Homo sapiens: one gene and its partner. The protein of the gene in region 1 interacts with the protein of each later gene in a biochemical or structural test. Each region holds a gene or a part of one and is shown in the gene's direction. Other genes may lie near its edges.

Region 1 (7,795 bases):
ATTGGGAAACAGGAGATGCCACTTCATTACTGCCAGGTGGGGCTGGAAGTTCAAGTTCTTACTCCATTGACACTTGGAAGCTGTTGTGCTTTTCTGTACTGCTGGGCAGGGATGGCAATTCAGTCTCTTCTCTCGGCTGATGCCACCCTGCCTGGGAGGGTCAGGGTTGCCTCCTTACTGCTCATCATGTGGCCTTGTTACTGCTGGGCAATTATGAAGGTCCTGATTCTTCACTAGGTCTCTTCTGACACCACCTAAGTGTCAAGGGGGAGAGTGCCACCTTATTACCACTGGATGGGAGCAGAAGTCCAGGCTCCCTACACTCCATTGACATGGCAGAAAGAGGAGGCTCATTACCGCCCAGCAGGGTAAAAGTCACAGCTCCACATTCTGTCTCCTCTGACAAACAAGGTCAGGGGGATTGGGGAACCTCCTTACAGATTGACAAGTGTGGAAATCTGGGCTCCTCACTTGACCTTTGCTGGCCTGGTGGGGTTAGAGACAGATTTTCTGTGATGTTTGATATAGTAAAGAGGTTGTTATCTAAAAGTTTTCTGTCTTACCAGTCTGCCGCCCTTTCCTGGAACTTTGGCTCAAGAGGCTTTTCTGGGGGCTTGTTTTGTCTGTGCTCCCTGGCATTTCTGAGTATCCAGCTCCTCCAACATCTCATCTGAGACATAGGAGGCCGAATAAAATCCAGGAAACTCCTACCATATATCTTGTCCCTCTGATCCTGAGGTTGATAGCCAGTCTTTTTCTCTCTAACTTTCAGTGCCTTCTTATGTTTGTTTTATGTATAATATTCATGGTTTTAGCTATACTTAGTAAGAGGTACAGGGAAAAGTGTATTTTTCACTCTGTCTTTCTGGGATGAGAAATCAAGAACCAGAAATGTTTATTATTGCCCTAGGAACCTAGGAGAAGACGGGTTGTGGCTTTGTGTCCCTAGGTATTTGGAGGATGGGGAGAAGCTGTCCATAAGTGGTAGCAGGGATCCAGCAATATGGTGGCAGGCTGGACTAAAGGAGAGATGACTGGGAAGCAATTTCCTGTGGTGCATGACAGCTGATGGATGGATGTCAGAAACAGTGGTGTCTGATGATCCATTTGAAGCCATTTCCTCCTCTATATTGCTATTACTGTCCATCTCCCCCTAAATTTTCAGTAAGCACCTATTATATAAAGCACCTTAGTATTAAAAAATGAAGGAGATGAAAGAGAAGGTTGTGCAGTTGTATTTTGGGCCAAGAAGAGTGGGAGAGGTGGCAGGGCCAGCGATGAAGAGCCTGCCAGAGTGATGGAGGCCTGAGCAAGGAGCAAGTTGGTGAAGAAAGATTAGGACATTGCCATGTGGAGTCGCTGTGGAAGCCTGTTTGTTCTCAGAGCTCAGTGGAGAAGAGGTAAAAGTAGGGACCAGTAGCTGAGTCATTATGAGAAAGAGGGTTTCATGGTGGTGGAAGTGACACATTGCCTCGATTCTCTTGAAGCTTTCTGCTTTGTTGCTTGAGTGGAGAGAAGCACCTCTGCTATTGCGTATGGAGGGAAGCTCTTTGCATGGATTTTGAAGGCGGCCTCTGCATTTCGGACTACTGGGTGCTCCCCCACAGGCTCCTAACACCTTGCTGCTTCTCCAGGTGGGGTCTGACGTGGAGTCAGCTCACAGACCTGCCATTCCTCTCTCATAGTACTCCTCATTCCAGTGATATCTTGGCCTGCTTCATGAACCCTGAGCCCAGAGTTCCTAAAGCACCAAACCCAGTGAAGCAGAGACACTTCTGGCATGGGTCTGTGGGTTGCTTCTCAGGGGCCAGGCCAGCAAGAATGATTCAGCACACAGGCCAACCTGTGCAAGCTTTATGCATGCATTTTAGGGCAATGGGAAGAGTGGTGAGTGAGGTTTATGGTAAATCTTTAACCACATTCAATTTTTTCTAAGACTTTTCTGCTTTAGAACATGTAGAAATGGAGAAATGACCAGGGGCTGCACAATGCTGTGCTTATTATATTGCTGTAGAGAGAAGGATGCTGCCAGCTCTCCATAGCCTGGGGTGAACTTGGCCTATGTAATGAGGTAGCAGGGAGTCAGGCAGGTGAGTTCTTCCTCTTGTATTGCCTTTTCCAGTAAATGCCAATACACTCCCCAGCTCACCTTTACCTAACATCTAGGTCTTAATCCAAGTTGTCCTCCCACTCCCCAGGGTGAATTGATCTTCCTGCCACGGCACCTCCTGAGCATCTGTTGGCTGAGTCTCCATCCCCACCCGTGAAAACAGCCTTGTGATGTGCTGTTTAATATCACAGAATGGAAACAGTGTTTTGATTCACCAGGATCCAAACACTCTTTTTGTAGAATCTACAAAGTGACATGGATGGCCATATTTTAGAGGACTGTTCCTGCAGCTGGTGGGGAAGCCCTGGTGAGGAGCAGTACAGCAGGCTGTTCTGGCTGGCTCGTTCTGAGCTGTAGGGATGTGACGGAGGCAGGAAGAGTGAGGATGCAGAGGAGGGGAGGACCAAGGAAGTAGAAATGAGCAGCAGCCTGGTAGGACCTGGAGGCTGGTAAGACTTGAGGGGAGAAGCCTAGGATGGGGCTCGGATTTACTATCACAGAGACAGCCAATGGGGTGATGTCAGGAGAAAGGTTGAGGAGTTCAGGTTGGGATATGTTGAATTTGAAATACCTGTAGGGTGTCCAGGCAGAGTGGATCTGAGCTCAAAAAAGTCTGGCTGGAGACTGAGCTAGAGAGAGATGTGGGAGTTCCAGGCATGTGTGGTCCCCAAGAAGGACGGGCAGAGCACGGGTTCTCCCCTGTTTTTAATCCCATACCCTGACACTTCAAATGACTGTTGTGTTTTACTTTCTCTAGTTTATATCAGGAACCCAACAATGATGACAGTAGCTGTTATGGACTGAATTGTGTTCTCCCCCCAAATCCATATGCTGAAGTCCTAAAACCAGGACCTCAGAATGTGACCGCATTTGAAGGTAGGGTCTTTAAAGAGGTAATTAAGTGCACAATGAGGTCACAAGGATGGGCTCTAATCCAATATGACTGGTGTACTTAAAAGAAATAAATATTAAGACACAAACACACACAGGGAAGACCAAGTGAGGATACAGGGAGGAGATGGCCATCTGCAAGCCCAGGAGAGGAGTCTCCAAAGAAACCAACAGTGCTGACACTTTGATCTTGGATTTCCAGCCTTCAGAACTATGAGAAAATAAATTTCTGTTACTTAAGCCACCCAGTCTGTGATAGTTTGTGATGACACCCATAGCAGACTAGTACAGTAGCTAACACTGGATACTTATTATGTGTCAAATACTGTTTTAAGCACTTTGCATATTTTAACACATTTAATATTCATAGCAACCCTATTTGTGGAAGGTAGTACAGTCTACGGCACGGCAGCTATATCGGCCCCTTTATTTTCCCCAGGGTTTGGAGTCTCTTCCACTTTCCAGCTTGTCCTCCTGCCCTTCACTCTACCCGGGACCATATCCTCCAGATTCTCACAGGTCCCTCCATCTCTCCTCAGGTGCCAGGCTCAGCAACCTGCCCTCATTACCTGCCAGTTCCTGACCCTATCTGTCACTAGCTCCTTACCTGGCTGGATTGGTCTTCTGAATACTTGCCATTCCCTGGCATGATGCTTTTGCAAAATAAGAAAATCAATAATAATAATAATAACTGCTAGTGTCTAATAAGCATGTGCTCTTCAATGTCTATTCTCTTACAACTACCTTAACAAATAGGGACATATTATTATTCTCCTTTTAACTTTGCTTTCCAGAGAAGGAGGCTGGGGCTCAGGGAGATGAGGTGAGTTTTTCCAGGTCTCACAGGAACAGGACTGAAGGAAGGAAGCCATGTTTGCCAGGAGAAACCAAATGGACATACAGGCTTTCTGTGGAATACACAGTTCCTGCTATCTTTTGGTTGACAAAGTCTGAGGTCCTAGGAAAGAGAGGAAAGTAATAGAAATATGAATATGAGTGTGTGTGTATTTTGCTTCCCTCACCAAAGTTTTCACAGTCTATATTAATGAGGGCACGATTTTGCCTGTTTTGTTCTCTGCCATATCCTCATTGTCTAGATTAGGTGCCTGCTACTGTGGAGCTCTAAGAGGTTGTTAGAGAAAGAATAGAAGAAAGAAAAGAAGGAAGGAAGGAAAGAAGGAAGAAAGAAAAGAAAGAGGGAAGGAAGGAAAGAAAGAAGGAAGAATGAAAGGAAAGAAGGATAGAAGGGAGAAAGGAAGGAAAGAAGAAAGAAAGGAAGAAAGGAAAGAAGGAAGGAGGAAGGAGAAGGAGAAAGGGTAGGGTGGGGAAGGAAAGAACAAAGGATTGCTTTTCCCTCACTGTGGGCTTGAGCCTGTTCCCTCCAAAGATACAGAGCTTTGGTCTTTACCCATAAAAAAGGATTTTGAAGTCACCCCACCCCGTTCTGTTCCCCCACAGTTTAGACAAGATCCTCATGCTCCACTGGCCACACGAGTGCCCTCAGGAGGAGTAGACACAGGTGGAGGGAGCTCCTTTTGACCAGCAGAGAAAACAGGATGGGGCACTGCCTCACTGAGGACCTGGGGGTGGGAAGGAAAGTGCCAACGGCAGCTCTATAAAAGCTCCCTGGCCAGGGGACCTAGGGCAAGCAGTGGTTTCTCCTCCTTCCTCCCAGGAAGGGCCAGGAAAATGGCCCTGGTCCTGGAGATCTTCACCCTGCTGGCCTCCATCTGCTGGGTGTCGGCCAATATCTTCGGTAAGTTCTGAGGCCATGGAGCCAGGCGGTGGGGAGGGAGCTCCAGTGTCAGCCAGGCTCTGCCCTGGGCCTTCGAACAGGTGCGATCTAATTTAATCTTCACAAATTCCCACATGTCAGTGATTTGCTTTTTTTTTTTCAGATGAAGAGGCAGATTTAGAGAGCCGAACTGAATTACTTGAGGTCACAGAGCTAGTGATTGATGGAGCAGAAATGGGAAATGTGGTTGATCTTCCTAATTCAATTCTAGGTCCTCCTCACCCCACCATTTTGGCAAACTTTTGGCATTGACCTTGGGTTTTTATCCCCTTAGCTATTCCAAAGTCTGTGTCATCCATAACAGGTATTTTAGAAGCAGTAGAAAAAGAAATCTACCTATGAAGTGAAATAGCCCTAAGTTCTGTCTTTGGCTCAGCCACTTACCCATATGACTTCGGGCAAAGTGCCAAGCTTCTGTTTTTTTTTTTTTTTTTTCATTTAAAAAGTAAACAAATAACACACACCTCATGATGCGGTTGTGATTTCTGGGTAGGACCCTATGTGTTACAAGAGTTCTCAATGGAAAAATAAGTCATGTACATTATTAATTAATTGGTATTTCAATGTTTATCTGGAACATGTTACATCTGCAGGGCATGGCTTGATAGATTCAAGAAGAACTTCCTTACGGTTCTCTAACTTACTCCAAATAGCCTCATGGGAATTGCGGCAGGGTGGGGGCGGGCGGGGAACGTGTAGTCCCAGCGTTGATTTTGGGATCCTTCACTTGCCAGTTACGTGACTTTGGGCAGACGACTTTCGCTGCCTGAGACTTGGTGCCTCATGAGTGACAAGGATATATTGCCTGTCACCTCTTAGGAGAATGTTGCACATTAAATGAGCTAATGTCATACTTGTAAGAAAGTGTGCTTAGCTGCCAAATTTTAAAATAGGCTGTCATAGGTAATGATGATGACCCTGGAAAAGCATCTGTGCTTATGAGAGCCCGTCTCTGTCCTGGCAGCCCAGTCCACACTCTTCTTTGATGAACCACTTTTCTTTTCCTAGAGTACCAGGTGGATGCCCAGCCCCTTCGTCCCTGTGAGCTGCAGAGGGAAACGGCCTTTCTGAAGCAAGCAGACTACGTGCCCCAGTGTGCAGAGGATGGCAGCTTCCAGTAAGGCTTATGTCAGCAGCGAACTCTCAAGGTCCAAGATGCCATAAAAAGCATCTTGTGCCTTCCCCCCTCTTCCTGAGCTCTGCCCTGCAACTCCTTTGTGCATGTGAGGCTTGGCCACTGTCATTTGGAGGTGCCTGCCTTTCAGTTCCACTGTCATTTGGAGGTGCCTGCCTTTCAGTTCCCCAAGCTGTTCAACACTGGACAATCTGACCAAGTGAACCCCAATCCATGCTTCATCCTCCCACTGCCCTCCCTTCTCTTCTTGCCATCACTTTTTCTGTGATGGCTTGAATAAACGGCACGTGTGGGGAGTGGGGCAGGTTGAGGAGAGTGTCAAATGATCTGTGCTTTGGGACCTCTCCCTCCTCCAAGTATCCTCTTGAGAAGCTGGGGTGGTGGAAGCAGAGGCTGCCTTGACTTCCTAGTCCTTAGCTGCCACCGACCCTGCCCGGACTAGCTCTCTAGGCTGCCTCTGGGCTTCTGGGTCGCTGTCTCCACATTGAGCTGCTCTCTGAAAGGGGTTTCTCCAGCTGCCCTAATGCAGACTTGGGGCCTGAGACCCTCTCTGTGGAGAGTGTGGTAATAATCTAGACAATTCTTCCCTGCAGAATAGACAGGAATCCTTTGCAATGTGCATGCATTGAAATTTCCTTGTGCTATTCCAGTCATGTTGAATCAGGGGAACTCCATTTATATAACTGCGTTCTGGGAAATGTCTGTGAAACCTCCCTCCCTGCTGCTATCTTATGTACACTCTTAATGTGCCTAACCTCCCACGAGTGTGCAGAGATGCTGCTAGAGCAGTCCCTGCTTAGATCACTGGGAATTCTGGAACAGCAAGGAAGGAGTTAAGGAGGAAGTCTCACTTTCACCAGCCTTATTTATATTCCCATTCCCAACTCTCTTGTTCTGGCCTCTTGCAGTTTCAAACCTGGCCTCTCTTCAGGAGGCTTTGCATATGCTGTTCCCTTTACCTGGAATATCTTTTACCTTCTTATACCTCTGACCATCCTGCAGGTCTCAGTTCAGTCATCATTTCTGGGGAGTCAACTCTATGGCCTGGCCTGACCCCACCCATGTGCTTCCCAATATACCCTGCTGGCCCCTGATCCCACTAACATCCCACCCCCAAGCCCCCACTCCCTATCCATACAATGTGGGCACTGCCTTTACCCTCTGCAGCCTCATAATGCCTGAGGACACTTGGTGGATGTGGCTGAAGCCCTGCACTCCAGGGTGGGTCACTTGTTTTGGGGCTGGCAGGCTGGACAGGTGGTGAATGAATGGCTGGGGCAGGAGGCAGAGCAGGTGCTAGCCAGGCAGGAAAAGTGGGGCCTTTCCTTTCCCAGGTCAGCCACCCTTCTCCACTCCACTCTCTCCCTAATTTAAACGAACCAAAACTTGCAAGAATGGAAATGAAGAAGAAAAGTAGCCTGAGTGGGAGCCGGCATGTGGCTTTGGGGGCCCATCCCAGGGTCACCTGGTCTGTGTCTCCTCCTCAGGACTGTCCAGTGCCAGAACGACGGCCGCTCCTGCTGGTGTGTGGGTGCCAACGGCAGTGAAGTGCTGGGCAGCAGGCAGCCAGGACGGCCTGTGGCTTGTAAGTGGGAGTGGGGGACGTCCCTTGGAGGGACCCTGCTAGGACAACTCACTTCCAGGAATGAGCACTGGGTTTGGGTGGGTGACTGAGCAGGTCCTCCCTCTGGGCTGCTGGCTTCTCCTCTGTGAATAAGAATCATCCCTGCAAGCCATGGAAGGCCCTATTTCCTGCAGGGCCACTGTGAAAGTCCAGTCATTTGTTCAATAAATATCTACCCAGTTCCTCCCATGAGCCACATGCTGAGAAGACAATGGTGAACAGACATCAACATCTCCTGAA
Region 2 (7,610 bases), on another chromosome or scaffold:
TATTTAATATGCTACTTATTAATAATACTTATTATTGGAGGCTTGGGACAATTAGTTCTCTGTGCCTCTGGTCTCAAAAGAAGTGATGCAACCAAGACTAGTTTTCTCAGTGCTACTTTACTGAGGACCTGGGTGATGTGAACCAAAGCTTTATCAGGAAGATGATTTGAGATGATTTGCAGAGTTGTCCTGTTTCTACAGGATTCACTGGAGTGAATTCCTATTATTGAGGTTTCTTATTTTGTCATTGTTAAAATAATGAAATTACTATTATAATCATGACTTAAAGAAGATTAATAAACTTTCTAGTAATGTGGGAGTCAGAAATAAGATTTCTATTTAATCGGGGCTAAATTCCTGAATTTACTATGGAAGCAAATAAATATCTGGCTTTCTTATTTCATATCTCTTTTAGTTGATGAGTATTTGGTTTTGCTTTTTTTCTCCTTGTTAACTTTAAAAAAAAAACCACACAATTTATAAATTTAGACAAGAAGAGACTTTCTTATACGAGGTTACAGCCTGCAAGGTGGGATCCTATGCTGGGAAGCACGCTGTATTATTCCGTTTTCATGCTGTCTATAAACACATGCCTGAGACTGGGCAATTTACAGAAGAAAGAGGCTTATTGGATTTACAGTTCCACATGGCTGGGGAGGCCTCACAATCATAGTGGAAGGCAAGGAGGAACAAGTCACATCTTACATGGAGGGCAATAGCAAAGAGAGAGCTTGTGCAGGGCAACTCCCATTTTTAAAACCATCAGATCTCGTGAGACTCATTCACTATCATCAGAACCGCAGGGGAAAGACCCGCCTCCATGATTCAGTCATCTCCCACTGGGTCCCTCCCACAAGATGTGGGAATTATGGGAGCTATAAGAAGAGATTTGGGTGTGGACATGGAGCCAAACCATATCACATGCCTTGGCCAAGATCAGAGACAGGCACTTTGAAGGAGGAGGGTTGGGGTAGGAGCTTTATGCTCAACAGGTTGGCTAAATATACATATTCAACAGGTGAGAGAAGAAGCTATGAATATTCATGAAAGTGGTCCTGATGCATGTGTATTTAACAAACATGCATGTTACATACAACTCATGTTCATTTTGGGGTGGTTGCAGCATTTAAATGTATTACAATTCAGCCTGATACGTCAAAAGGTCTTTTCAGGACATGAAGGCATGCAAGTGTGCAACCTCTGTAAGTCAGCCAGAACCATCCTATAGTCGGTAGTCTTATCAGGAGAAAGTTACTGAAATCAGTCTCTTGTCCAATCAAGCTGTAGTTATGGCTGGTGGAACAAGGGGTCGGTTAGTCAATATCTGTGATTTGGATGAGTTGTAATTGTTTTAATATTGCATATCTTCAGCCGGGCACGGTGGCTCATGCCTGTAATCCCAGCACTTTGGGAGGCCAAGGCGGGTGGATCATCTCAGGTCAGGAGTTCGAGACCGAGACCAGCCTGGCCAACATGACAAAACCCCATCTCTACTGAAAGTACAAAAATTAGCCGGGGGTGGTGGCATGCACCTGTAATCCCAGCTACCTGAGAGGCTGAGGCAGGAGAATCACTTGAGATCATGCCACTGCACTCCAGTCTGGGTGACAGAGAGGGACTTTGTTTCAAAAAAAAAATTTATATATATATATATGCACATATATACATATCTATATAGATACATAGATACATATACATATCTATATAGATACATAGATACGTATATATGTATATACATATATGTTTGTGTATATATATATATACAGAGAGAGAGAGAGAGAGAGAGAGAGTGAGAGAGAGAGAGAATCACTCTGTTGTCCAGGCTGGAGTGCAGTGGCACGATCTCGGCTCACTGCAACCTCCACCTCCCTGGTTCAAGCAATTCTCCTGCCTCAGCCTCCTGAGTAGCTGGGATTACAGGCACATGCTACCACACCTGGCTAATTTTTGTACTTTTTGTAGAGATGGGGTTTCATCACGTTGGCCAGGCTGGTCTCAAACTCCTGACCTCACATGATCCGCCCGCCTTGGCCTCCCAAAGTGCTGGGATTACAGGTGTGAGCCACTGTGCCCAAGCCATGTTCCCTATCTTCTCTGAGCAGGGCTGGGGAAAACAAAAACAAAAATATTGCTTATCTTCAAGCCAGTGCTTGTTTAGCTGCTGGAGAAAACAAAAACTCTGTGGCAGTTAGAACATAGCTTTTTTCTTTAAGTGTAAGGGTGCGTGACTTAACCCTTCCTGGCATGGCCTTAGATCCTGTTTATAATTTGTTATCGTATTGCCACAAAGAGTCTGTTCTGTCAGTCTTGTGATCTCTGTATTAACATTAAGGCTGCTCAGTTGTGTCTAAACTCTAAAAGGGAGAGGATGTAATGAGGCATATCTGATTTGCCATCCCATCATGGCTGGAAACTAAGTCTTTAAGGTTTTTCTGGGGTCTGCTTGGCCCAGAGGGGGTTCATTCAGTAGGTGGGGGGCATAGGATTTTATTTTTAGTTCACATTCACAAAAACAAAGGGCCAAAAAAGTCTTACTGTGTCACACAGGCTGGAGTGCAGTGGTGCAATCTTGGCTCATTGCAGCCTCCATCTCCCGGGTTCCAGCAATTCTCCTGCCTCAGCCTCCTGGGTAGCTGGGATTACAGGCACCCGCCACCACACCCAGCTAATTTTTGTATTTTTAGTAGAGAGAAGATTTTACCATGTTGGCCAGGCTGGTCTCGAACTCCTCACCTCAGGTAATCCACCCACTTGGGCCTCCCAAAGTGCTAGGATTACAGGCGTGAACTATCATGCCAGGGCTATATGTCTGTGCTTTCTAAACCCAATAAATGTGATGTAATATTAATGCTAACAGCACACGTGATGGGCCAGAAACATTTCTATAAGCCCAGCGGCTCTGGGCATAAATTTCTAGGGATGGTGAACCGAAGAAACAAAATTGTGTCATTGAAATCAGCTTTTCCCAACCACCAGTGTCTTCTCTCTCTCTCTCTTTCTCTCTCAGTGTTCACTTATTACATGGCTACTCTGTGCCAAGCACTGTTGCTAAACACATTATGTACAATTTCTCATTTCATTGGTACTGATTTTGACACTTACTCATCCACTGTCTTTTATCATGATGTGACCATTTCCTACAAAATGCCCTATGTAGCTTCCAACCAAAATACCACAAAGCACAACTTCAGCAGTCCTGCCTCTTGACCTTCTCCCAGGCTCTGCTCTCGCTCATCTGTTCCATCCTTTGCATTGGCAGAAGACCCATCTTTCTAAATGCTTACTCTCTTGGAGCATGTAATTTCTTTCCTAGGAATCACCATTCTCAGCTGCCTGACTCCAAGAATCGTTCTCAGTTTTATCTTCTGATGCTCCTAGACCTCAGCACCTTATTCCAGCCTAACACATCTGGCAACTCACTGTTCCCAGAGCTATTCAACATGCCTTCCACCTCAGGGCTTTACTTGGCCTGTAATGCCCTCTTCCTCTCTTTCTGCCAAAGTAGCTTAATGATTAGGAATATAATTCTGAAGTCCAACCATGGGCAAAGCCAGCTCCTCTGCTGACTTGGTGGATGACCTTGAACTAAATTTCTTCCCTTCTCAGAGCCTCCAATGGACAGTAAAACTAATAACAACACCTCCCTACCTTAGAGGTTGTTGTATAATTAAATGAGATAATATACATAAAGTGCATGGTGCAGTATCTGGTACATAGTAAAGATCAATAACCTGATGTTATCATTGTTGTCGTCACTATTATTATTTCAGACCTTGGTTTCTCCCCACTCTTTCATGAAGCCCTTATCTAACCACTCCAGGTCAAAATCATCTCTCTTTTCTTTGAATTAACTTACTTTTCCTATCACTGATTTGATGACTAGGATTTATTGCCTTAAGCTTTACATCATTCCTTTCCGATTTTATTTCCCCATCTCAGGTAAAAACTCCTGGAAGAAAAGATCCTGCAATTTGGCTTTTTGTGAGATGGAAAAGATTACACCTTGCCCTGCAAACTTCCCCCCTTTAAAGGCGAAGGTTTGTTAGGTTAGTTAGCCTGTGAGAAAACTGTGCGTTCTTAGCAATCAAAGGCCAGACATCTGGGGGTACAGGGGGGAGGAAGACTAGGATAAGAGACTCTAGACGGGGACAGAATTAAAAGGAAAAAAAAATTAAATAAGCCTCCGTCTCCTTTTATCTCCTAGCAGTAGGCAGTAATTTAATAAATAAAGGAGCCCCGTTAGCGTTTTCCCTGTCCATTCTTTCCCAGGCACGGTGACCTAGACAGCAGCAAAAAGCGAGTTAATAGGGAGGGGTTATGTAGGAAGCAAAAGTCAAGGAATGTGGCTACAGCTGATTACAGGAACTGAGAAAGTGGACCAAACAATATTGACTCCCAGCACGCCACCGCGATGTCCATCTTGGGGAATCCGTTGCTGGAAGGGACCCATCTCGCCCACCCTTAGGGGTCGAGGTGGGCGAAGGGGGAGGAGAGGGCTGGCGGGGCGGGGCGGGGTTGCTCCGCCCCCGGAGGCTGGGCTGTGACCAGCAGGCGGCTCCACAGAGCAGCGGGCGCGCTCATAAAGGGCACAGCCGAGGGTACGTGGATCGCGGTGCGGAGACTGAGGTTAGAAGGCACAGGTGGCGAGATGAGCCGGGTACCAGCGTTCCTGAGCGCGGCCGAGGTGGAGGAACACCTCCGCAGCTCCAGCCTCCTCATCCCGCCTCTAGAGACGGCCCTGGCCAACTTCTCCAGCGGTCCCGAAGGAGGGGTCATGCAGCCCGTGCGCACCGTGGTGCCGGTGACCAAGCACAGGGGGTGAGTGAGGAGGGTCGGGGTCAGGGGCAGGAGAAACTGGAAAGCGGGGAAAGGAGGAGCAGGAAGAGGAGGGGTGGGAGAAGGGAAGAGACGGCTTGCCTAACCGTTGCTAACAGCTGCCACTTTTAATAGGCGCTACCCGGTGTGCTAAGTGGGCGTTTTACAGGTGTTACCTTGTTTATTTCAGCACACTCTCCACCTAGGGAGGTATTGATACCACCATTTGATTGGTGGAAAACTGAGACTCAGAGAGGTTAAGTGACTTACCTAAGCTTACACAGCTACTAAGTGGCAGAGCTGGAAAGGTTTTCTGATCCAGAGCCAGACTTCTGAACATACTGTGCATAGTGTCTAAGGGAAGGGCAGAGGGATGCGGGGGCTGGAAGAGGGCCAGTGGGGTGGTGAGGAAGGAAAGAAAAAGGAAAGTATATGGATACTTTCTAAGAGACCCCAGCATTGATGGGAAGGGGCTGAAGCTGCTCCCTCTCTCCTTGTAGCTACCTGGGGGTCATGCCCGCCTACAGTGCTGCAGAGGATGCACTGACCACCAAGTTGGTCACCTTCTACGAGGACCGCGGCATCACCTCGGTCGTCCCTTCCCACCAGGCTACTGTGCTACTCTTTGAGCCCAGCAATGGCACCCTGCTGGCGGTGAGCAACTTCCTGTCCCGGGGTGGAATGGGGCCCCTGGGCCCAGATTGAAGCTCAAAAGTAAGTTCTCCGCAGCAGGGGGAGTCTTGATTGTGACTACGCGTGCCCCTCTGCAAGTGACTGGATACCAGCAACAGTGAAGGTTATCTGTGTCCATGTATCTATTTCTAGGACTGCCTGAGGATGCATAACACGGCACCAGCGCCCACTGCTGCCTCAAGCATGTGACAGTGTGGAAATAATAATCTTGTTGTCATTCTTGCATATGTCCTTGTCCTATACTCAGTTGCCCCAAATACGCAGCTTGAATGAACCCATTAGCCAAGGGAAGACTTACTTACTGAATCCTTGTCGACATGGAAAAGAAGGGGTGTTCTATAATCCCTGGGAGTCTTCAGAGGGGTATACGGTGTGACCTGTTTTAATATCTAATCATAGTTTCAAAAGGTAGCAGTAGCTTGTGTTTATGGAGTACTTTTTATAATGCATCAGGCACTTTTCTAAACATTTCACATTTATTAATCCTCTTAATACTTAAAACTATTCTATGATATGGGTAATATGATTACTCCCACTTTATAGATGAGGAAACCGAGTCAGAGCAACTATGTTCAACTTACCGAGGTTTATGTAACCAACAATTAGCATGGTTGGACTTCAGAGCTGCTCAGTCTAAGTCCACGGTCCATAGGTCCAGACTCTTCTAAGACCACCGCCATTTTAACTGCTACATATTGGGCACTTATGTGCCAAGAAGGAGACGCTGATCACATTCAATTCTGCAAAATTCCTCTATGGGTGTTTTTATTAACTCCCCTTCCCCCCAATTTCTGTTGAGGTCCTTGAGGCTCAGGTTAGTAGAGTCACTTTGCTTGAGGTCACACATCTGGTTAGTGAAAGACTCAAGAATCACTCCCAGGTGTGACAGTTAACTCTTAAGGTCTGTGCGCTCCAAGCTGGGTCTTACAATGTCCCTCCTTTTCCCCTGAATTTCTGGATCGCCAAATAATCTGGCCGTTTAACACTCCTTTGAGAATATCTAGCTTTCCCCAACTTACACTCATCCAACCGAGATGGCATTCATACTACCTGCCAACAGCGGTTCCCTAGGGGGGTAGAACCCAAGGCTTTGAAACTAGATGACAGCTGAATCTGCTCAGTGACTTCGTGATTCACTTCCTCATCTGTAAAATGAGGTTGATGATGCCTATTTTTTGATGATCAGCTGAGATGAATAACAGGGAGAGGAGTGCAGAGGATGGTTTTTACTAGCGAGGCATAATTTTCAACCTTCGCTGTGTATCGGAATCACCTGGGCTGTCTGGGTCTCACTCCTGGAAGAGATACAGACTGGGTTAATCTAAGGGTGGTATCTGAGCATCTTCACGAAGCTTTCCACATGTGCAGCAGGAACGGAGAGCCACTAAGAGTTTCATGGCCGTTGTCCAGATGTCAATTGGCAACCTTCTCTCTCTAGTTCCTTCTTAATTTGGTGTTTTGAGAATCCTAGGGCAAGAAAAGAAAATGGGCAGTTCTTGAGGGCTCACCATGTGCTAGATGTTTCCAGATATGCCAGTGCATTTAATCCTCACAATAACCCTCTGAATGGCTGGCATTATCTTTTTTACAGGTGAGGAAACCAGTGCTTAAAGATTAAAGTGTTTGTTCAAAGTTGCATATCTCGTAAGTGGAGGAATCGGATCCAGGTCTGACGCCAAACCCATGCTGTTTGTAGGATGCTATAAAACTTCCTAAGCTAATATTTTAGAACTGTTTCTTCTAATTTATGCAGTGGACAGGGGTTCCCCTTGCTCACTGTCTCTCTTTTCCTCCAAGGTCATGGATGGAAATGTCATAACTGCAAAGAGAACAGCTGCAGTTTCTGCCATTGCCACCAAGGTAAGATGAATGGCTGGCTGTACCATTAAGGTGAGCTGTCAAGTGGGGTCTGGTGTCTCAATCTTGAGAGACTAAAGGAGAAGTGGGGAACTTATTTTGGTTTCCTGTTGGACATAGCTGGAACTCCAGATGTCAGATATATCAGTAATTCACGAAATTATTAGCTACCAATTAGTGTGCATGACCAGATTTCAAGTACCTTATGTGCATAATTCTCAATCTTCCCATCAGTCTTGAAGAAT

Evidence for each region.
Region 2: the proteins of TG (region 1) and CRYM form a complex in vitro, tested with the Homo sapiens proteins (one study listed by BioGRID).

Annotation. Positions count from the first base shown.
Region 1 is NC_000008.11:132,862,311-132,870,105, forward strand, and holds the start of TG (thyroglobulin precursor), read left to right. Parts: upstream 1-4,647; 5' UTR 4,648-4,690; coding exon 4,691-4,757; intron 4,758-5,804; coding exon 5,805-5,913; intron 5,914-7,418; coding exon 7,419-7,516; intron 7,517-7,795. UniProt on the Homo sapiens protein: Acts as a substrate for the production of iodinated thyroid hormones thyroxine (T4) and triiodothyronine (T3).
Region 2 is NC_000016.10:21,275,290-21,282,899, reverse strand, and holds the start of CRYM (ketimine reductase mu-crystallin), read left to right. Parts: upstream 1-4,609; 5' UTR 4,610-4,648; coding exon 4,649-4,818; intron 4,819-5,315; coding exon 5,316-5,469; intron 5,470-7,305; coding exon 7,306-7,368; intron 7,369-7,610. UniProt on the Homo sapiens protein: Catalyzes the NAD(P)H-dependent reduction of imine double bonds of a number of cyclic ketimine substrates, including sulfur-containing cyclic ketimines.